3 linked regions of the Homo sapiens genome follow. The protein of the gene in region 3 interacts with the protein of the main gene of each other region in a pairwise test. Each region holds a gene or a part of one and is shown on either strand. Other genes may lie near its edges.

Region 1 (7,103 bases), on a different chromosome or scaffold from region 3:
GAAAGAAAATATCAATTGCAGCCTCTGCTCTACCTTCTCAAGGTTGAACTGGAAGCATTCTAACCCCCTTGAGATATAAGGACACTGGAGAATTAGTAAATGCCCTTGGCTCTCAGCTGAACTTTGATTTTCAGCAATGAGGCCCAATTCAGTTCCTTCTCACTCAGACTCCCTCACCAACCAGTATGCTCGACCACATTTACCAAATTATTATCAAGAACTTAAGCCAAGTAATTCCTACACAGGAAATTATCCCTAACGCCAAAGTCATCCACCTCACCTTTCTTGGGGGGTATATGTCCCTAAAATACTTAATAGAAAGGGGTATTTAGTTCCCCAAACATGCATGTCACAATTCAATGGAACATCTCTTACCTTTCAGTTCAGTGGCCTCTAGCAGTTTCTTCCACAAACTGATCACCTCATTCATACGAGCTGCCACTTCATCCTTGGCATAGTGGTTGACATCAATCAGCTTTTGGCCAGCTTTCTCCAAGGCATCAATTCGGCTCTGGTTTGCTGAGAGCTCAGCCTCAAAAGCCTGATGCTTCTGTACTTTTCCTTGTAGGTTGGATGGATCCTGTGAATAAAAGAAGGGGGTTCTTTCTATCTTGAACCTGAGAACGTCAAGTTCCCTTGCACTACCTTCATACTTATCTTTATGGAGGAATGTATAAAACAGTTGGCTTACATTAAGTAGTGGGGTTTCTGGAATCCCTTATTTCGTCCTTTAGCTACAATTTATTTGTGAGAGCTGTGTTTAGCTTACTAATCGAGTGCTACATGGCAACACTAACAGTACATTACTTTATAAGCTTCATCTGTGGCAGTTTTCATCTTCTCATTGACCCAACTCTTGAGCTCATCAGAATCACGGAAAAACTGCTGCAGATGGAAAGAATCGGCTAGCTGGGCCCGGCGACGCATGGCTCTCTCGTGAAGGGCATTGCGGCGGCTCAACAGCTGAAAGACAAGGATCCCCTGTGAGTCTCTAGTGTTCACTCCCAAAGGGATATCCAGTTGAAGAGACTTAACTGGAACATCTTAGAAGAGACATTCATGTACCAAAAAGGAGGAGCATGAAGAACCTACAAACTTACAGCATCTCGGCGAGTGGCCACATCTTCCATTGCATAGTGGTTGTTCTGAATTAGCTTGGTTGCAAATTCATCTAATGCCTAGGAAGGAAGATAAGAGTTCTTCATTGGTAAGCACACTAGTCCCAAGCTTGGCCTCTGGAGAAAAGTAACTGCTGAACAGATCATAAAACACACCAAACTTTAACATAGGTCAAGGTTTTCACCCAAAGGTTGGTGATGACATTTTTTCTCATAACTTTTGAGATTTTGCTTGATGTCACCAGTCAGATATCATAAGACTGCACTACCTCCATTCAAGACTGGAGACATTAGTTGTGGCACGATCTCCTGGCAGGGGTCAAACACAGGTTAACAGCTTTCCAAATTCTTATTTCTAAGATGTATTTTCAATGGGAAGAGTACCTCTTAATATTAACCCTGACCTACTTTTAATGAAGGGTACAAACTTAAAGAAGTTTGGAGGTTTCCATTAAGTAAATCATTTTTCCATAAAGTTGTATTATGTCTTCAACGAGATAGCATGTCATCCTTGTGAAAGTTTAAGCACCCACAGGAGTACTCTGCATATGAATCTTTCATCAAATCTGTTTGGAATCCTTCCAGGGAAAAAGACTCTGGCTTACTATAAGGGTCATTTGAAAGCACTGACAAGAAGGGGTCTTACTGTAATCTTTTCCTCCTGGGCACTAAGGGATTTCTCAAAGTCTTCGTGCTTCTTAAGAAGCGCTTCCACACTATCCAAGGAATCTCCCAAGTCTTCATTCAACAGGAACGCCTTGCCAAAGGAAACAAAGTGTTCAGAATAATGTCCTATTCCTTTGATCTTCTAAGACTGTGAAGCAAAGGGTATTTTGGCCAAAATATAAAAAGAAGGAAAGAGATTTTATGGCTGCTAAACTTCTAAGATCTCTTCTAGGAAGTCTAAAGTCCTTTTGGATTTTCTTAAAATCAATCCAGCCATATCATGAAATCCTATTCCACATTCTATTGAAACTTCTCTTACATAGTTTTTGTTGCTTCTATTAGATTCAGATGTTACATAATGCTAAGGTTTGTTTTTTTTGTTTGTTTTTTTTTTTTTTGTGAGACAGGATCTCGGTCTGTTGCACAGGCTAGAGTGCGGTGGTACGATCATAGCTTGCTGCAGCCTTGAGCTCCTGGGCTCAAGGGATACTCCCATCTCAGCCTCCCAAAGTGCTGGGATTACAGCAGGGAGCCACTGCACCCAGCAATGCTAAGTTCTAAGAAAAAAATCTCTTTAATAAAACATTTTACATCACACTAATCTGAAAAGCTGGGGCCTTTTCTGAAGGCCTTGCAATCTCAGCAGGGAGAGATGCTGGCAGAGCTGAGAGAAGCTTGCTCAATTCCCCCTCTTCAATGGATTCAGAACTAACATGGTACTGATGTCCTAAAACAAAACAAGCACACTACCCGAGGAGGCAAAACACAGGCCCTTCTTCTCCCACCACTGGCAAGGCTTTGCTCACAGATTACCTCCTGCTTGCTCATCCAGTTGTCCACCTGCTCAGTGTCCCGGTAGAAGAGCTGCAGGTCCATGCACTGCTCGTACTGCTGCCTGCGCAGCTCCCACAGCTCCAGCAGCGCCGCTCTCTCCTCGGAAAGGACGGTCAGCTTGGGGGCATAGGAGACATGGTCAGGGAGATGAGGTCAGCCCCAATGCCTCCGAGGCAGACAGAACAGCTATCCTGGAATTCCTAATCCTAGTGCTAATCTTCAGGCCTTTTTTCCGATTTGCAAAAGGGGAAAAACAACATTCACTTGTATGTGCATGTTCAATATAAAAGGGATGGCCTGTTTTAATTAATCTAGAATTAATTTATTGCCAAATGATCACAAATGACTTTAGGTAAAAACAGTAAGTAAACTCCCAGGTAGAAGAAATAGGGCATCCATTTAAAAGTGAGGCAGTATAAATGGAGTTTAATGGAGTATAAATGGAGTAGGGACTCTCCACTAAGAAATGTCAACTGAGTGGGTGCTCCATAACATATGGAAAATAAATTCAGAAACTCCCTAGACTTTAGGCTCCGAAGCTACTAATGACAAGTCTTTGAAATGTCTTTACTCTATGTAATACTAAAAAACATATAAATCATATAAATCATTATTTATCTAATGTTCCTAGGCAATTTTATACTCGAAGATACTTCAAAACTTATATACATATGTGTATATATATACACATATAAAAAAAGTAAAATAAAATATGTATATATATACATATTTTATTTTTATTTATTTATTTTTTTTTAGAGACAGGGTCTCACTCTGTCACTCAAGCCAGAGTGCAGTGGTGCAAATCATAACTCATTATAACCTTGAACTCAAGTAGCTCGGACTATAGGAATGTGCCACCATGTCTGGCTAATTTATTAATTTTTTGTCCAGATGGGGGTCTCACTATGTTGTTCAGGATGGTCTCCCATTCCTGGCCTCAAGCAATCCTCCTGCCTTGGCCTCTGAAAGTGCTGGGGTCACACCACACCTGGCCTATGTATCATTTTATAAAAATTTGTTTCCTCTTTGCTCCAACTCCTAATGCAAGACTCAGCTCCCTACAGAAAGTCCCTGTAAGTAGGAAACATGCCACACATGCCCCAGATAAGGAGGACTGTCTCTCAGGAAATCAGCACACTATACATATACCTTCTTTTTAAACCTCTGCAGAGAAAGGAAAGTTTCTCACATATCATGGTGAATGCGTTCTCTGGATATTTAAGGATGAATAATAGCTTTCAGAGACTTAGTGAAAGGTGTAATTTGCTCCTCAAAAGCTCCATTTCTCTTCTCTTACCTTCTCCCTCACTTCATCTGAGGCATAGTGACCAGCAGCAAGCAGTGCCTGTCCAGATTCATCTGCAGATTTGAAGCTGTCTTCATGGGCATCAATTTCACCCTACAGGAGAAAAAAACAAAGCCATGATTTGTGCCCAGCATCTTACAAAATAAAAACAAGGTGCTGAATTTTACATAAGCATTATAAGCCAGACTATGACATCTAAAATGAGAAACAAAATGAAAGATTAGGCCAGATTTCCTAATACATAATCAGTCTAGGTCATCAAATGTGAGAGTATCACTCACTGATGAAATCCTTTCCAAATGGCTTTTCAGGTCACCTGTCATTTGTCAAGGTTCCACACATTCACATGGGTCTGAGCTCTCTTTCATTCCAGGGCTCTGTCTTCTTTGTGCCAAATGGACTTGTTTACTATGATTTTATAGAACCTGGTAGGGCGAGTCCCTCCCTGGCCCCATTATGATCTTCAACATTGTCTCAGCTTTTTTTGAATTTTTTTCTTCCAAATCAGTTTTGGAATCAGCTTATCTCATTGCAAAAAGAAACACACACATATACCTGCTGAGCACTTGACTGGAACTGCATTAACGGTATATATCCTGGTGGGAATTTACACCTTCACAGAAGATCGTTCCATCTGTGTACTAGATAAATCATTCTATCTATTCAGTTTTTATTTAATGCCTTTTAACAAAGTTTTATAGTTTTCTCCAGAAGTGTCTTACACTCTTTTGTTAGACTTATTCCTAAGTACTTTATATTTTCTGCTCTAATAAGTAGTATTTTTAAAAATTATGTTTCTGTTGCTAGTGTAGAGAAACATGTTTGACTTTCAGTATATTGATTTTGTATCTAGCACATTAAAACCTCTCAGAAGGTTTTTTTTTTTTTTTTTTTCTTTGAGACAGAGTGAAACACTCTTGTTGTCCGGACGGGAGTGGAATGGTGTGATCTTGGCTCACTGCAACCTCTGCCTCCCGGGTTCAAGCGATTCTCCTGCCTCAGACTCCTGAATAGCTGGGACTACAGGCGCGTGCCACCATGACCAGCTAACTGTTGCATTTTTAGTAGAGATGGGGTTTCACCATGTTGGCATGGATGGTCTTGATCTCTTGACCTCATGATCCACCCGCCTCAGCCTTCCAAAGTGCTGGGATTACAGACATAAGCCACCGTGCCTGGCCCAACAAATACTTTTTACATCACAAAGGATCAATGTGCCAAGTAGTAGCACTTCTATCTCGCCAGAGCTTGTCTGTTTGCTTTTATGGACCACAGTGAACCTCTTGACACTGAACCCAGTTAAGCCTCTATCAGAAGCAGGTAGACCAGGTCTCCAAAGGCAAAACCAACCATAATCCTCATGATGAGAAACACCTGTGAATAACATGGTACCAACGCCGACTATAGGCCTCACCCAACACTGATAAACTGGTGCATTATAAGCTAAAATCTTCACTTCTGGAAGATTCTAGAGATACCATTACCTTGTGCTCTTGGTGTCTATCTAGCAGGGCTTCAGCCCCAGCCACATCACTGGCAAGCTCATCTGCATTGATGAGGGCTTTCATCTCAGTCACCCAGCTGGTGAGGTCACGGAAGTCAGCAAGGAAGCGTTGAAGCCTAGGGAAAACCAAAGGAAGACATTATGTTTCCAGCGGAGGTTCCAGGGTGGAAAATGGCCTCCCTAAAGCTCTGAATTCTATGTTCTCAAATGTCTAACAAACTATATAAATTCTAATTCTGGGAAATATGAAAATTTCCCAATCTAGACTGTGAAGGAAAGCAAGAGAAGGCTGAAATCAACCCTTTAAAACTTAGGTTCTCTCCATCACTATAATGCCCCAATCCTGTCCCACATTTTCAACTTCCTTGTTATTCCCAGGTTCAACCCTTGGCTAGCAAGGATTCTTTTCCTTTCTAATCCTGGTTTTAATAAGATATTTCATGTGATACTCAGATACTTAAAGGGACATTCCCATTCTATCAATCATAATGCAGTGATGCAGAATAGAAGAATTTATGAAGTTGTAAATACCATACGTATACTACACATGATACAGTTGCCAGTCTCCAAACAGAGAGAACATAGGTAAGAAGTGATTTGCATTTGTAGGTGATACCTGACACTTTCACAGAACACAGAACAGACCCTTAACTCTGCTATTCCTGCTTCCAAAAAAGAAGCCAAATGATACTGGTTAAGACCTGGAGCATTATTTGCACCTGTATGAATCATTGAGCCGTGCATGTCTCTCTGCCGCCAAGGTGCGGATCTGCTCCCAGTTTGTAATCAGTTCCTCTCGCTTCACTTGAATCTGTGTTGCACTCAGAGGGTGGGACTGTTGCAGGCGGTCAGCCTCAGCACACAGGGCTTTGACCTAGAAATGAACTCCGTCAGAACTATTCTCCTGACCCTTGGTAACTTATTTACAGAATCAGCTGCTTGTAAAACCCACCTTGTCTTCTAGAGCAGCAAGATCTCTCTCCAGACCCTCGTGCTTCCGAAGCAGAGCCTGAACACTTGCCAGGTCTCGGCCAAAATCATCAGAGGCCATTAACTGCTCCTTTTCCTTAATCCAACTGATAGTCTCATCCACATCCCTACAGAACAAAGGCACCAGTTAATCCACAGCAATGATGACTCCCTAGAACTAGGAACACCCCATGGGACCAAGGCCTAGTCAGCCTCGACAGCTCACCAGCACATGCCCTGTGCTTCACAACTCCCCTCCAGGTTGAGACCCATTCCCCAAAGCCCACTCTGGCTTGACACCTGTTAAAGCGCTGAACTTCTGCTGCCCCAAAGAGCTTCCCCTGCCTCTGCAGAGCCAGGCCCTTCAGCCGCTGCCAGGCTGCATTGACTTCATCCTGCTTAGTCTTGATCAGTTCCTCCTCAGGGTGCTGCTCCTAAACAAGGAAGAGAAGAGACTGGATTTGTACACAACTTCTGGCTCCTCCAACTAGTTACCCTGGGGTTGGTTCCTTGAAGCATCTCAGCAAATCACCACTCTGAAGAGAATCACAAGAAATAATGGTCAACATGATACAAAGTGAACTACAACTCCAAAGAGTTTCTATTTCTTATGTAAAAAGGGGAGAGCCATTCTCTATCTTTTGGAGTAGTGTGGTTAGTCTATAAGGTGGTTATGTGCAAAAGTGCCAAAAACCTTTATGTT
Region 2 (7,274 bases), on a different chromosome or scaffold from region 3:
AAGATCTGTTCTTCCTCTACCGTGTATTTCAAGCAGGAACCTGCCCATTCCTCCACCTCTGCCACCTCACTCAGCTACTGCACCCCAACAGATGGAACATTGTGTCGGCCCTGCCTCCCAAATGGGGCCTCAAGTCTGCTCTTGGCATCCCATCACCTCTGCTTTAGATCCCTACTTTAGATCACTAACACTGACCTCCAGGCTCTCCCCCTCTGCCTCCGAGCTGCTTCCTACTCCTTTCTTGCTGCTGCCAGTGTGCATCCCCCAAATCCCATCTGAACATATCACCTCCCGGCTCAAAGTCCCCAGGTCTTGAGGCTGCCTGTAGGGTCAGTCCAGATTCAGCTTGACCAAGCCAGCTGCTGGCCTCCACGTGCCACACTGACTTCTCCATCTTGTCCAAATAGTCCAGTCTCATTCAGACACTGCACAGGCAAAGCTATACATTTTGCAGCTAAATATTCTGGTTTTCTGCCATTCTGTCAAACACCCCCATCAGCCAGAGGCAGCCAAGGCTTCTTAATCCTTGCTTCATGCTAGAAAGAGCTCCAAGGTCCAGACTCACATCTGTGTCCCCAGGAAAGGTGAGTTGGTGCTAACCCTGTGAGGACTGGCAGATGTGTCTTCATGGTGTTAAAGCTGGGTAAAAAGCAAAGCAGCTGTGCAGACTGCCCCCTGCCAGGCAAGCACCCCACAAAGTCCTTCCTGCCTCTTCCTGCCTGCCTTTGGCTAAAAGCATCTTTCCAGAGAGAATCACACTTGACAGGCAAAGGCACAGGACTGCCAGGGAAGGAGGCTCTCCCCGCCACACCCGGAATAGAAACCCTAGACCCTCCCCCACCTTGCTCCCCAGCGGCATGTAAGGCCTGCAAATGCCCCAGAACCCAGTGCAGCCCAACTCACAAGTCATAGAAGTTGCGCAGGGAGGAGGCTGGGGTGAAGACATCCAGGAGCCCAATGACCTGGGGAAGAAGTCACCTGTGAGGGCTAGACAGACGCTACCTTCTCCTCCCACCTCCTCCTGGGCCCTGGCCATGCACAGGGCCATCCACCCTTTCCTAATACACCACCTCCAGCAGGAGGCATGTCTCCAACCTTCTTGGAAGCAGTAAAAAGGGCAGAGGCCTAGAGGAATCCCCTGGATTTGGAGGGAGTTTGCAATAAATCATGACAGAGAGTCAGGCTGGGGAGAAGGGAAGGTGGGGAGAATGATGTGTGCTCATTGCTGTCAAGTCTGGTGTCAGGGCAAGCAACACAAACCCACTCTCAACTCACCTAGGCAGCAGGAAAGCATAAGGGGAGGGTGGAAGGGAAAAAGGAGGGAACAGAGAAGGAGCTTTTCAGCCAGCAAACTCCCTGCCCCTGACCTTGGGTCTCCAGCCACATCCATCCTTGCCTGCCACAGGGCTGGTTCAGAGCCAAGGGCAAGATCACCCTGGCTGGAGGCCATAGGGGAGGGGTTTGCTGGAGAAGGATGGGCTTAAAATGTACATAACATTTTGAAATCATTCTTTGAAATGTCTGCCCTCCAATCTAGGTATCCTGCAGCAAAGCCTGGCTGCCAGGCCCTGAGCTGGGCCCCTGGTTTTCCCAGCTGCTTCTATCAGACAAGACAATCTGATGGTCATGTGCTCAGACCGGGAGCCTCGCTGCCGAGATTGAAACCCCAGCTCTGCTACTGACTAACCATCTAATCTGTGAGCCTTGCTGTGCTTTAGTTTCCTGTCTGTGACATGGGGGCAGTAGTACTCATATATCATGAGGACTAGACAAGTTAGTGTATGCAGAGCTCTTAGAACATAGGAAGTGCTCAATATGTGTATATTGCTATTGTTATCAGGGTCACGTGGACACAACGCTAACTAGGATTCTAGTCCCAGCTGGCCACAAGCTCTCAGACATGGAACCAATTACAAAGTTCCCCTGTGCCAATTTCCTCTGTAGGATAACACAGTCTGTACCTCACAAAGTGCATTCTGCCAAAAATACCCTTTGACCTCTTCCTGGAAAGTGGGCAGGGAAGGTCTCGGCACCCCCTCCTTTCAATAGTGAGGCGAGAGGCACCGTCAGGGGAGCAGGGAGGAGACTGTCCCGAGCTCTCCATACCGGGAGGCCCCGCCTGCGCCTGCCCCTGACTCCCCAGGGCAGCCCCCACCCCCTCCCCGGGGCAGCCACCACCTACGTTCTCATGCTGCATGTGCTTCAGCAGCAGCAGCTCCCGGTAGGCGCGCTTGGCGAAGATCTCGGACTGAAAGGGTCGGCTCAGCTTCTTGATGGCCACCTTCTCCCCTGACCGCTTGTCGATGGCCGAGCTGTCGGGCACAGGCCGGTCAGCAGGCGAGGCTCTCCTCCTGGGCCGTATCTCCCAGACCGCCCTGACCCCTCCCACTGGGCAGCTGGGCTGAGAGGGGACTAGGCCCACCACCTAGAATATGGGGGAGCCGCGGGACGCAGGGCAGGGAGTAGGAAGCCAGGCAGGAGCTGAGAGAGGGGCACAGCGCCAGGGGCAGCAACGTCTCATTGCGACGGGATCCACGGCAGGGCGGGAGTCTCACTCTGTCTGCAACTTGGCGAGCCACCTCCCCCTCTTGGGGCCTCGGTGTACTCGTCTGTAACAGTGAGGATCTGCCCGATGAACTCTGGGGTCTTGCAAGTGTACAGTCCTGGAGAACCAGGCCCAGTCCCAACTCAACCCCCAGAGACCTCACTCAGCCACTCGGTGAGAAAAGGGAGATGGCCGCTGGGTGGCCCCGGGGAGGGCGCTGGGCCTTGAGGTCCGCGGTCAAGGTGGCGCTGGCGAGGGGCCAGCCCAGGGCGGGCTGGGCGGAAAGGGGAGAGCCTGGCGCCCGCCCCCCGCCCCCCAGCGGCCCAGGGGTCTCACCACACGGAGCCATAGGCCCCGCTGCCGACGTGCGTCGGGGACACGTAGGTCTTGGGCAGCTCCCAGGCTGTCTTGTTGACGTCCTGCTTGTAGAAGCCCTTTTTCCGGATGAGGCTCATCCCGGGCACCCGATCTCGGCGGCCCCAGCGTGGCGGCTGCGTTCGCGGCCCAACGGGCTCCCAGCGCCCCGACCCCCGCTGCGCCCGCCCCGCGCCGCCCGCTCCTCCCCCGCGCGAGGGCGGGGGCCCCGGGCTGCTACGCTCCCACCTGCCGGCTCGCCCAGGTGCGCCGGGGCCGCCACGCCCGGGCCTGTCCAGCCCTGCGCTCCCGCGCTTCCGCCCGGCCCGACGGAGCCACTGCGGCAGGTGCGGCCCAGGCACGGGGTCGGGGCTGCCCAGCGGGACCCCGGTGCCTCCCAGCCGAGCGCGGGCCAGCGGCGGGGCTGGTGGGTCCAAGCAGGAGCGGGGAGGCAGTGCTTCCCAGTTCCCTCCAGCCCCGGTCTCCGTAGGAAGAGCTCCCTGTGACTGTGAACACACAGGAAAGCAGAACAAAACCCCACAACCTCTTCATTATGGAAAATGTCAAACATGCAGGAAAGAATTGAACAGAGTAAGCCAGCGCTTCTCACACTTCAGTGTGCTCAGGAATCCCCTGGGCATTTTATTTGATTAAAATACAGATCCTGACTCAGTAGGTTTGGGGTGGAGCCGAGATTCTGCATTTCTAGCCAGCTCCCAGGTCTGAGGCTTCTGAACCACATCTGATAGGAGGTTCTAATGAACCCCCGTGACCCCAATTCCCCAGCAACCACAACTCATAATCAATTTTATTTCATCCACATTCCTCTCCCACCATCGTTTTGAAGCAAAACCCAGGCGTCATATCATTTTATTCATAAATATTTTTGTATCTCTAAAACGTAAGGATTTTTAAAAGTACGTATCCACAATACTATATATATATATTTTTTGAGACTCTGTCGGAGTGCAGTTGCCATCTCGGCTCACTGCAACCTCCGCCTCCCGGGTTCAAGCAATTCTCTGCCTCCGCCTCCCGATTAGCTAGGATTGTAGGTGCCTGCCACCAAACCCGGCTAATTTTTGTATTTTTAATAGAGATGGGGTTTCACCATCTTGGCCAGGCTGGTCTTGAACTCCTGACCTCGTGAACCACCCGCCTCGGCCTCCGAAAGTGTTGGGATTACAGGCGTGAGCCACCGCGCCTGGCCCACAATACATTCTTAAACCTAAAATTAATAGCACTAATTCTATAATACCAAATATCCACGCAGGTTCAAATGTGCAGGATTTTTGTTTGTTTTTGACATGGAGTCTCACTCTATTGCCTAGGCTGGAGTGCAGTGGCGCCATCTCAGCTCACTGCAACCTCCGCCTCCCAGGTTCAAGCAATTCTCTTGCCTCAGCCTCCTGAGTAGCTGGGACTACAGGTGCACACCACCACTCCTAGCTAATTTTTGTATTTTTAGTAGAGACGGGGTTTCACCATGTTGGCCAGGCTGGTCTTCAACTCCTGACCTCAGGTGGTCCGCCCACCTCAGCCTCCCAAAGTGTTTGGATTACAGAAGTGAGCCACCGCACCTGGCCCAAATGTGCAGTTTTGAACACAGTTTCTGTGGACTTCCTAAGGCTCTATGAGGACAATGACTAATTGGGGCCCTTGCCACCTGTCTGGTGGCCTGTGCAGCCTGATGGAGATTCTTTGCTCAAACCACAAAGGCCTCTGAGGAGCAAGGTGGGCAGGTGGGGGGAGGAGATGGCTGCAAGGGCTCTGGATGCCCAGCCTGACTTGTCCAACCCCTCTCTTGCCCAGGCATGGGGCTGTGGAAGGGGCGGGGACCACCTGCTTCACTTTGTCAAAAAGAAGGTCTATTGAACAAGGAAAGAAATTTGCTAGGGGCTTACAGCAAGCCGGGGGCCCACACTAGGGAGTCTGCAGCCCCCAAACTCTGTGCCCCAAGCCCTCCCGGGCAGTCCTGCAGCCTCAGGCACAGCCTGGAAGATCATTCTGAGATGAGGGTGGGGTGCCATCATCACACAACAACACCTGCCATTATTTCAGTCAGGCAATCTGTCTTTTTCATTTCTGGCACATGGCAATATAACAGCAAATGTGTGGAGAATGAATGGAGGAGTCAGCCCATTAGATGTAAAAGAGTCATTTAATACACACTTGTGTTTGCCATGTGCCCGTCATTAAGTGTTTTATATAACTCACTTAATCCTGGTAAGAGGCCTGTGAGTCAGTAATATGATTATCCTCATTTTAGAGATGAGGAACCCGAGGTACAGAGAGGCTAAGTAATTTGCCCAAGGTAACACAGCTGGTAAGGGCAGAGCTGGGTGAAAGCAAGTACAGCCTGATTCTAGAGTCCCTGCTCTTGGCTGCGAGGCTATGCGGTGGCCTAGAGTTGACAGAATTGCTCCTCAAAGGAAATGGCCTTGCCCACATCATAAGGACATGTCTACTGATCCAACCATGTCTCCCTCAGTCCATCCTGCCCTGGGGTATCTGATATTTTCCCCAGCCTTTTCCCTCCCCCACCCCCTACTCTGGCCCTGAGACCCCATGAGAGCCTAAGGAACGGGGTCGCTTGCCTGTGAGTGCTGCAGGAGTTTTGGACCTTTGGGATCAGTGGCACCAGTGCAAGGTACCTTGATTCTGAAGTTGGGGTGGGGTCCTGGAAGCCAGATTTTAGGCTAGACGCAGGCAAAAGAGAGTAACTGACCTCAGAGATTCAGGTTTTCTTCTGGTTTGAGGATCCAGTAAGGAAAGGGGCTAGGATGTGGCACCAGGTCAGGATGGCGCCTCTCTGCTGCACGTCTTAAACACCTGAGTGGGGCAGAGGTGAGCCCAGGAAGGTGGGGATACCAAGGACATGCTCATCGCCCAAGTGGGTGCGATCTTCTGAGAGCACGAGTGGCCACTCTGGCTGTAGCTCCGGATGCTCTTGAGCAAGGGTCAGGAAGTGACTCAGGCCTCCGACTCTGCTGACACTGACCCCTACTCTGGGCCTGACTGGCTCTGCATTACTCAGCAGCCAGGCAGTCTGGGAGGGAGCCCTTGGAGGATCCAGTTGGGGAGTCATGAAAGGGAGGGGAGGAGGAGAGGGTCACTCAGGTCATCCTGGATACCCTGCTTCTCCAGCCTGAGGCTCTCTTTTGAGTTCCAAGGGCCCTTTGCTCTTCTCCTCTCCAAACACCAACCCAAGTTGTCTTGTTGGTTTCTGCCCTATGAGCATGGAGCATGGAGGCAGGGATTCAGGAAACTAGCTTTGGAATGAGGCCTGAATTTACATCCTTTCTCTGTCATTACCAGCTGTGTGACCTTGGGCAAAGTCTGGCCCTCTCTCTGAGCTTCAGTGTCCTCCTTGTGAAATGGGGATAATAATAAAGTATGACAAGCATATTGAAAGAGCCTTAGGATTGTATCATTTCAAGTACATATTCCTCACGACAACCCAATGAGGTAGGAACTTTCAATGCCTCCAACCAGAGATCACCAGAAACACACGTGTGGGTGAACAAGCTGAGCTGATGACTCGTTGCAACAAGGGAGAGCATGCACCATGGGGATCATGGGGCGTCCCAGGAAGGGGGCGTTAGAAAGGACTTAGTCTAATGTTTGGAGTTGTGTTAGGTGATTGGGGAGAGGTTAAGGAAGTGAGGCTTTGTTCTGGGTTGATGCTGTCAGGAAGTGGAGCTAACACTATGATTGGGAGTCTTAATACATCTTGCCTAGAAGGAAAGCAGACTAGAGCAAGGCTGAAGCTACAGCTGGTAAACCAGCAGCCTCCACTCAGCTTAGCTCTACAGGGGGATTTGGGTCATTTCTGTGATTTGACAATATTCATGTTTTGTCTGTGTTCAGATATGATTAAGGAGTAGTTTCATTTTTGTCTTAGTCTGCCCTGGTCGCGGATGGCCTTGTTCTATGCTGATGTCTGTGAAATCGTCTATGTTCAGCACAGCAAGACCGAATTGCACCAGGCTGGACAGCTCTGAGCAACCAAGTCCTGGCTGATAGGACCAGGCAGCTCCCAGATGTCAGGGCTGCTTTGGTCTAGTCTATTCCAATATAATTATTCCCCTGGTACAGATGGAGAGACTGAGGCCCGGAGAGGTTATGTAATTTGCCCAAGGTCGCACATAACTAAGAAAGTGGTGAACATGATCTTCATACCTGGCATCTGGCTCCTAAGTCTGCACATTTAACTGTCAACTAGAATTCCTGGTGCCCAGCAAGTGCCTGAGAAGTGGCTGCTGTTGTTGCATTGTCTTCCTAGCTAGCCTGTGAGCCTCTGGAGGCAGAGACATGGTGTGGGAATTGGTGACTGGTTTCTTAGAGATCGAGACAAAAGCCCCACATAACTATG
Region 3 (7,965 bases):
CAAAGTTAGCCTTAGACTTGCCCTTGATAATGACTAATGACATCACAGCCCTGCTTGTTTTGAACAGGGTAGGCACACTGTCTAAAAAACATGTGACCAGAAGAACGAGAAGCTGGGGAAAGCACTTGAGGACACAGACCTAAAGATGTGTTTTAGTGGCTGCTTCAAACTGTGGAGACAAACCCAGTACACAATTCTTAATTCTATCTCTAGAAAGCCAAGAGGTTCTGAGGCTCCATTTCATAACAGAGACTTGAACTGAAGCATGAACTGAAAACAAAAATGAAGAACAGCAATTTGCTAAACCTCAAACCAAAGACAAATATTATTCCTTTTGCTGAACCATGAACCAAGGGTTTAATCACTTTACAGTAGAGTTGAGGCTATTGATTTTTGTAAAACCACTGAACAACACAAATAAGATAAAAATATTCCCTGAAGTATTCCTCTTTGGTTGGAATCCTATTCTTGGAGTCAGGGATTCTTATAAAAGATGTAGAAAGATTAGAGTTTTTTGAGATCTTAACATATGAAACTGAAAAGCAGGGCAGAAACAAGGTATTCTCTTCCATCTCCTTTGTGGATCAGCCTCCTTAAAACCATGTAGGACTCACCAAGTGTTAAGACTGCATGAGGCCAGAGCCTGCTGTAATTCCTAGAAGACAGTGCCTTCCATGCAGGTAATTTCCTTGAATGTTTTCTGGCCTGCCCTCAACATTCCCTAAGTATCGAAAGATGACTTGGCTGGGTATGGTGGCTCAAGCCTGTAATCCCAGCACTTTGGGAGGCCAAGATGCGCGGATCCCTCGAGGTCAGGCGTTCCAGAGCAGCCTGGCCAACATGGTGAAGCCCTGTCTCTACTAAAAATACAAAAATTAGCCAGGCATGGTGGCATGTGCCTGTAGTCCCAGCTACTCGGGAGGCTGAGGCAGGAGAATCGCTTGAACCAGGAGGCCAGGAGGTAGGGGTTGCAGTGAGCCGAGACTGAGCCACTGCACACCAGCCTGGGTGATGGAGTGAGACTCTGTCTCAATTAAAAAAAAAAAAAAAAGGTCGGGCACGGTGGCTCACACCTGTAATCCCAGCACTTTGGGAGGCTGAGGCGGGCGGATCACGAGGTCAGGAGATGGAGACCATCCTGGGTAACACAGTGAAACCCCGTCTCTACTAAAAATACAAAAAAAAAAATTAGCTGGGCGTGGTGGTGGGCGCCTGTAGTCCCAGCTACTAGGGAGGCTGAGGCAGGAGAATGGTGTGAACCCAGGAGGGAGAGCTTGCAGTGAGCCGAGATCACACCACTGCACTCCAGCCTGTGCCACAGAGCAAGCCTCTGTCTCAAAAAAAAAAAAAAAAAAAAAGTTAAAAAAAACCCCTAATATTTAACTTATTTGCTATGAAATTCGGCAAATAAGCTATTTTCCCCCCACTAGACTGAAAGATCACTGAGGGCAGAAGACCTTTTCTGACTTTTCATTGCTATATTGTCAGCTACAGGGTTAGGCATTCAATAAACATTTATTGGGTGAATTCTAACTTGGATTTACCCCCTGGTTTAAGTCCTTGACTGATTACAATCTGACCGTGAAGGCTGGGCAGGAGAAACAGGTAGTGTCCAGATTCTCCGTAAATTCCAGAAAGATCCAAATGTGGTCCATCAGCAGGTGATGGGGCATAGTTTTGGTTCACACCAACTTACCCCACACTGACTTGAAGTATAGTCCATGAATTCAGCCATTGTTCTGAAGGAAGCACTAAGGGTTGGGGGTCTCTCTTCTCTCTATTTGAATAAATGGCACGTCACAGGTTAGCTCTAGGATTCCCTACTGGAGAATGAAGCCATTTTGGAAATAGTCTCCTTTTTACTTTTGGAAAGGCTCTGCAAGTTTATGTCAGAAAGAACGATGTTATTGAGAAAGAATTCCAACTCTAAAAGATAGACATGCAATTTATCCAGGATCTAAGAGACAGGCTTGCAGGCTTTCCTCTACTATCAGATGATAGCTGTAAGATTTTTTTTTTTTTTTTTTTTTTGAGACGGAGGTTTCGCTCTTGTTGCCCAGGCTGGAGTGCAATGGCGCGATCTCGGCTCACCGCGACCTCCGCCTCCCGGGTTCAAGCGATTCTCCTGCCTCAGCCTCCCTAGTACCTGGGATTACAGACATGCGCCACCACGCCCGGCTAATTTTGTATTTTTAGTAGAGACGGGATTTCTCCATGTTGGTCAGGCTGCTTTCGAACTCCCGACCTCAGGTGATCCGCCCGCCTCGGCCTCCCAAAGTGCTGGGATTGCAGGCATGAGCCACCGCGCCCGGCTAATTTTTTTTTTTTTTTTTAAGTAACCAACCAGGGCTGAACACTACCGTTATTCTACAGCTACCCAACAAGAATCTGTCAAATGTAAAGCGTTTTGAAAGGACTTTTCCATTCATTGTTCTGATCCTTTCCAGCTTCCGCTAAGGGAAGGTTTCCTCAGCTGCTTCTGCGCTGCGCACCCCTGGCTCCCAGCGGGCTACCGCGGCGCGAAGGACTGGGGCGGCCCCCGGCACAGCGACCCTCACCTCTCCCGGGAGAACGCGCTGCGGGCCGGCTGCCGGCTGTTTCTCTAGGTGGGGCGCCTCCCGGGCAAGGACCCCCATGCAGCCTTTGGGACGCTCCAGGGCATGCCAGTCCACCGCCCTCCTCTTGGCCCTCTCCAGCACTTCTAGAGCCAGCCTTGCTGAACGCTGCAGGGAACGTCGGTCCACCCCATTCAGCGCTGCGGCCGCCAAACAGTTGTCCATGGCTCCCTGAGTGGGCACACAACGTACAAACGCCGGCGGGTCAGCTGGGCCGCGGCGACCCTGCTCCAAATCCGGGTGGGAGCCCCAGCCTCGACCTCCCTGGAGACCACCGCTCCTGGTCCGCCCCCAACGCACACTCCAGCGGGAGCCCAGCCAGGACTAGGCCTAGCGCGCCCGCCCCTTCCATTTTCATCTACCCCTTCCGCTACTTAGGGAGCCCCCTCACCCGGCTCACTCGTCAAGGCGCATGCGCGCAACGCTATTCTAGGAAGAGGGACCAGGCCTAGCGCTCCCGGCGGCGCCGGCGCAGCTGGGCCATTGGCGGAAGGCGGGAGAGGCGGGAGAGGCGGGAGAAGTGGGGGAGGCGGGGCGGCTGGGCGGCCAAACACGCCTTCTGCGTCCCAGCCTTGGCGTCTGCGCGCGAGTTGCCTGGTTAACTGCTGAGCGCTGGAGGCGGGGCGCCGGGCGCTGGGGGCCGGGGGTCGGGGGTCGGGGGCCGGGGGTCGGGGGTCGGGGGCTGGGGGCTGAGGACTGAGTCGAGCCAGCAGCCCAGGGCATCTGTCCACGCTGTCAGAGGAGCCTCTGGGCGTGGGGCTGGCCCTTAGAGGGCTACTGCGCTGCTTAACTTGGTGGGTATAAAGGCAGGTCTCCTGTTGAGCTAAAAAATTATGGGGTACCAGCTAGGTAGGCAACATAGCGAGAACCCGTGTAGACACACACACACACACACACACACACACTAGCCAGGAGTGGTTATGGGGTACCAGCTAGGTAGGCAACATAGCGACAACCCGTGTCCACACACACACACACACACTAGCCAGGAGTGGTTATGGGGTACCAGCTAGGTAGGCAACATAGCGACAACCCGTGTCCACACACACACACAGTAGGAGGAGTGGTGGCGCGCATCTGTAGTCCCAGGTACTCGGGAGGGTCGAGGTGGGAGGATCGCTTGAACCCGGGAAGCGGAGGTTGCAGTGAGACGAGATCGCGCCACTGCACTCCAGCCTGGGCGACAGAGGAAGACTTCGTCTCAAAACAAAAACATCATGGGGAATAAGGCAAGTGCCTCCCGCGCCTCTTTCTGCTTGGTCTACATTTTGGGGTGTCGCTACTCTTGTTTGAGGAGGTGATTAGGCCAAACTGTGTGGCTGCCAAGGTGGCCTTTGGAGAAGGGAACAGCTCGGGATTGAGGCGAGACGGAGGCGGGGCTGTCTGCAGATGTTCCTGGCCCCCGGGGCAGGGGGCGCCTGAGAAGTTGTAGGGTCTCTCATAATCCCTCAGCGCAGCTCTCTCTCCCCTCCAGTGGGAAGTACGGATTCACATATTTTTGGAGACCTGTTCTCTTGGGGTCTGACTCCATCTTTTAGGAAGACTGCACCATGTTTAAGTAAGGAACTGTGAATGCTTACTTAAACCATGTTTAAGTAAGGACCTGTCACTCCACTCCGCTGGTTATTTGGTAGGAGATACAGCCCAGGCTCTCACTGCTAATTAGTGACTCAGCCGCACCACCCAGCGCAAAGCAAAGCGCCGATGCTTAGGAAGGTCCACTTTGAGGGACACGCTCAGTGGGGGTCACTTTAAGGAACACAAATAAATCCTCCTTTAAGTCTCCTCTGTGGTTCATGAAAAAGGAGAGAAACTCCATCCTCACCTAGTCTCAACAGATGGCTTGATGAGCAATTATCAGGTACCAGGTGAGTAGTAGCCGACCAATACGACCTCCTTCTATGCTACTTAACTTTTGCAAATTTCCTGCTTTCCCCTTATAAAAAAGAATAACAGTGAGTGAAACCCTACATTATTCTTGAGATGATTTTTTTTTCATTTTATTGGTATTCCAAAACATTTCCTTCAATAAGGGTTTATCAAGTGCCTCCTTTAGAACATAGTGGTTGTACGTGCATGGGGTCCTGTATATCCACTCGGGAGAGCTGGTTTGAATTCTGGCTCTGCCATCTTTTTTTTTCCATTTCTTCTCCTTCTCCTTCTCCTTCTCCTTCTTCCTCCTCCTCCTCCTTCCTCTTCCTCTTCTTCCTCTTCTTCCTTCTTCCTTCTTCTTCTTTTTTGTTTAATAAAGAAACGAGGGTATCACCCTGTCAGCCAGGCTGAAGTGCAGTGGCACGATCTCGGCTCACTGCAGCCTCGACCTCCTGGGCTCAAGCGATCCTCTTCTTCAGCCACCACGCCCTGCAAATTTTTTAAATGTTTCGTAGAGACAGGGTCTCCCTATGTTGCCCAGGCTCTCTGCCACTTTTTTGCTCTGTGGTTCTGGGCAAACATATTACTTCTTTGAGCCTCACTTTTCCTCATCTCTATATCTGGGGATTCCAATAGTACTAACTTCTTTAGACTGAGCTTCTTGAGGGAAGGGACTGTATCTGTAGTGTTTAGAGTTTAAGGTGCATCTAGTATTTACTATTTTGTCTGTCACAGTAAGGACTAAAAATAGCCCTTGAATGTGTGAATTGGGTTGCCATTAGGATTCTGTGAGATAATTCCTGTAAAATGCTTAGCACAGTGCCCGGCAAAGATAAGTGCTCCATAGACTTAGCTAGCATTAGTATGTGCCAGGCACTGCCCTAGGAGTTGTGGAGAACAGAATGTGGATCAGACTAAAGGAGAATAAAAAAGAGGAAAGAATGCACATAAAATCTATAATACCAAGAACAAAATATTCGGACATGCCATAAGATTGACACAGATAAAATGCTATCAAGCTTAGGAGACTATGTTCAGCTGGGAGGATCAAGAAAGGTTTTGCAGAGAATGTAGTTTTCAAGCTAGGCCTGATGGCCTAGGAATCAGTGAGAGAAGAGGTAGATAAGATACCCGTTAACTGCTTTTACAATAAGTGTGGTTGGAGTGGGACAGAATTTGGTCCTCTTTATTTTTTATGGATTTCAAGGTTTTAGCACATTCCTCATAGGGTTATTGTGAATATCAAGTAAGTTAATATCTATAAAGTGCATTTATAGTACTTGGTACATAGTAGGTGCTCAATAAATATTAGCTAGTATTATTATCTTAAGCTTCAGCCTGGTCTCCCAAAATATGCTCTCACTTACCCAGTATCATAGCCACACCTCATCTCATTTGTCTCTCTTCCCCATTCTATTTTAGTCATTCCAGTTGAGGCACTACTTTCTTTTTGTCAGGTCAGCTCTTTGAAACTTTTCCCAGTGGTTCCCAGTTGCCACCTCTGTTGCCATAGCCTTAAAAAAATTTTTTGTGTGTACTTTTCCAATCTAATTTAAATTATGTGTAGTTATGGTTTCTTCTCTCCCAATAGCCTTTCAATTCCTTGAAGGCAGAAACTGTTCCTTATTTGTCCCTAAACATTCCAGGACCTGTTAAGTAGCGGGTGTTCAGTAGCCATTTGTTGAAATTACTCTGATTTAATTTTTAAGTTAAATAGACTTCTGTTAGCCCACATAAAGAGGTGGCTTTGTGGTGGCTCACACCTGTAATCCCAGAAGTTCAGGAGGTTGAGGTGGAAGGATTACTTGAGGCCAGGAGTTTGACAGCAGCCTGGGCAACATAGTGAGACCCCTGTCTCTATTTTTTAAAAAATTAAAAAACTAGCCTGGCATGGTGGCTCATACCTGTAGTCCTAGCTACTCGGGAGGTTGAGATGGGAGGATTGCTTGAGTCCAGGATGTTGAGGCTGCAGTGAGCTATGATCGTGCCACTGCCCTCCAGCCGGGGCAACAGAGTAAGAACCTATCTTAAGAAAAAAAAGAGTTGGCTTTTCTATTAAAAAAACACCTACCTACATGAACTTTAATGAATGTAATGAATATTCAATTGTAACTACATTTTCTCAGAATTTAACATTTAGAAATTTATGGGAAAGAAGATGCTTGAAATGAAACTGAAACCAAAAGACTCTAAATTAAATCTTTGCATTTGTTTTTATTTTTCTATTTGTAAATATATTTGTAAATATATTTTTATATGTGCATATTTATAATTTTAAAGATTCATCCTGTAAACCACAGATTGAGAGACTTGAGAGATTCCTTTTTATCTTTTTTAAGATTGGCTGGGAATAATGATAGAACATGACCTACCATCAGGCCCCTTGTGGATCAAATATAGCCCACGCCAAATGAAAGCCACTGGTGAGAACTGAAAATGGAATTGTAAATGGAGAGAGGGCAACTAATTAGGAATGTGCCTGGTCAACAGGGAAATAGACTGTCAGTATTGACAGAAAAATAAACTATTGATATGAGTTTTTAATGACTTCTATCTTCACAAGGGTAAATTCACTAATGAGAACAGATGAAAGTTAGTTGTCAGGGTTCTATGTTTTGGAGGAGATGCGTTGGAAGAGGTCTTTAATTGTGAAATGGGGAAAGAGACTGGTGCTGTATTTGGGACTTTTTGAGGAGAAAAAACAAGTCCAGTGAAGAGCAATGTAAATTCCTTTTCTTTATGTGAAGGGGGCCAAAAAGGGTTAAAAACCCAGGATGCAAAAGTGGGTACTGTGCCAGAGTTAGACAGTGATTTATACTGTACATACCAGAAACTGTATAAATCATTTTATTTGACAAATGGTATTGTTATTTCTCCAGCAGACTTAAGAGCTTTGGAATCATCACAGCTTTGTAAGGTAGTATTACAGACTGAGTCATTAGATCATTCATTTTGCCTGATTACATCATCTCACTGGGTTATTGGGGGAATGAAAGAAACTCATTATCAAAATTGTCATCTTGATGATGTAGATTAAAGAAAATGAATCAAACTTCTGAGAATTAACTTTCACAATCTGTTTAAAATTGACTGGGAGTTAAAAAAATTGGTTGCAGAGCAGGAATGATTGAAATCTTGTCATTTTTAAAAGTCAGAGATCAAAGGAATAGTATTTGGAAGATATTTAATATAAACAGTTGAAATTTATGTAGAGTTTTTTTTTTTTTTTTTTTGAAGACTTCTTGGCTGGGCGCGGTGGCTCACACCTGTAATCCCAGCACTTTGGGAGGCTGAGATGGGCAGATCACGAGGCCAGGAGATTGAGACCATCCTGGCTAACACGGTGAAACCCCATCTCTATTAAAAATACAAAAAATTAGCTGGGCGTGGTGGCAGGAGCCTGTAGTCCCAGGGGAGGCTGAGGCAGGAGAACGGCGTGAACCTGAGAGGCAGAGCTTGCAGTGAGCCAAGGTCGCGC

What was found.
Region 1: the proteins of AKIP1 (region 3) and SPTAN1 interact in a two-hybrid assay, tested with the Homo sapiens proteins (one study listed by BioGRID).
Region 2: the proteins of AKIP1 (region 3) and MAPK13 interact in a two-hybrid assay, tested with the Homo sapiens proteins (one study listed by BioGRID and IntAct).

The regions. Positions count from the first base shown.
Region 1 is NC_000009.12:128,576,554-128,583,656, reverse strand, and holds part of SPTAN1 (spectrin alpha chain, non-erythrocytic 1), read right to left. Parts: intron 6,835-7,103; coding exon 6,701-6,834; intron 6,529-6,700; coding exon 6,384-6,528; intron 6,306-6,383; coding exon 6,151-6,305; intron 5,548-6,150; coding exon 5,412-5,547; intron 4,021-5,411; coding exon 3,919-4,020; intron 2,736-3,918; coding exon 2,598-2,735; intron 1,876-2,597; coding exon 1,765-1,875; intron 1,179-1,764; coding exon 1,101-1,178; intron 964-1,100; coding exon 808-963; intron 581-807; coding exon 376-580; intron 1-375. UniProt on the Homo sapiens protein: Fodrin, which seems to be involved in secretion, interacts with calmodulin in a calcium-dependent manner and is thus candidate for the calcium-dependent movement of the cytoskeleton at the membrane.
Region 2 is NC_000006.12:36,126,309-36,133,582, reverse strand, and holds the start of MAPK13 (mitogen-activated protein kinase 13), read right to left. Parts: upstream 3,071-7,274; 5' UTR 3,001-3,070; coding exon 2,882-3,000; intron 2,313-2,881; coding exon 2,183-2,312; intron 963-2,182; coding exon 904-962; intron 1-903. UniProt on the Homo sapiens protein: Serine/threonine kinase which acts as an essential component of the MAP kinase signal transduction pathway.
Region 3 is NC_000011.10:8,906,265-8,914,229, reverse strand, and holds the start of AKIP1 (A-kinase-interacting protein 1), read right to left. Parts: upstream 3,042-7,965; 5' UTR 3,007-3,041; exon of another isoform or gene 2,787-3,006; 5' UTR 2,781-2,786; coding exon 2,559-2,780; intron 1,778-2,558; coding exon 1,697-1,777; intron 1-1,696. UniProt on the Homo sapiens protein: Enhances NF-kappa-B transcriptional activity by regulating the nuclear localization of the NF-kappa-B subunit RELA and promoting the phosphorylation of RELA by PRKACA.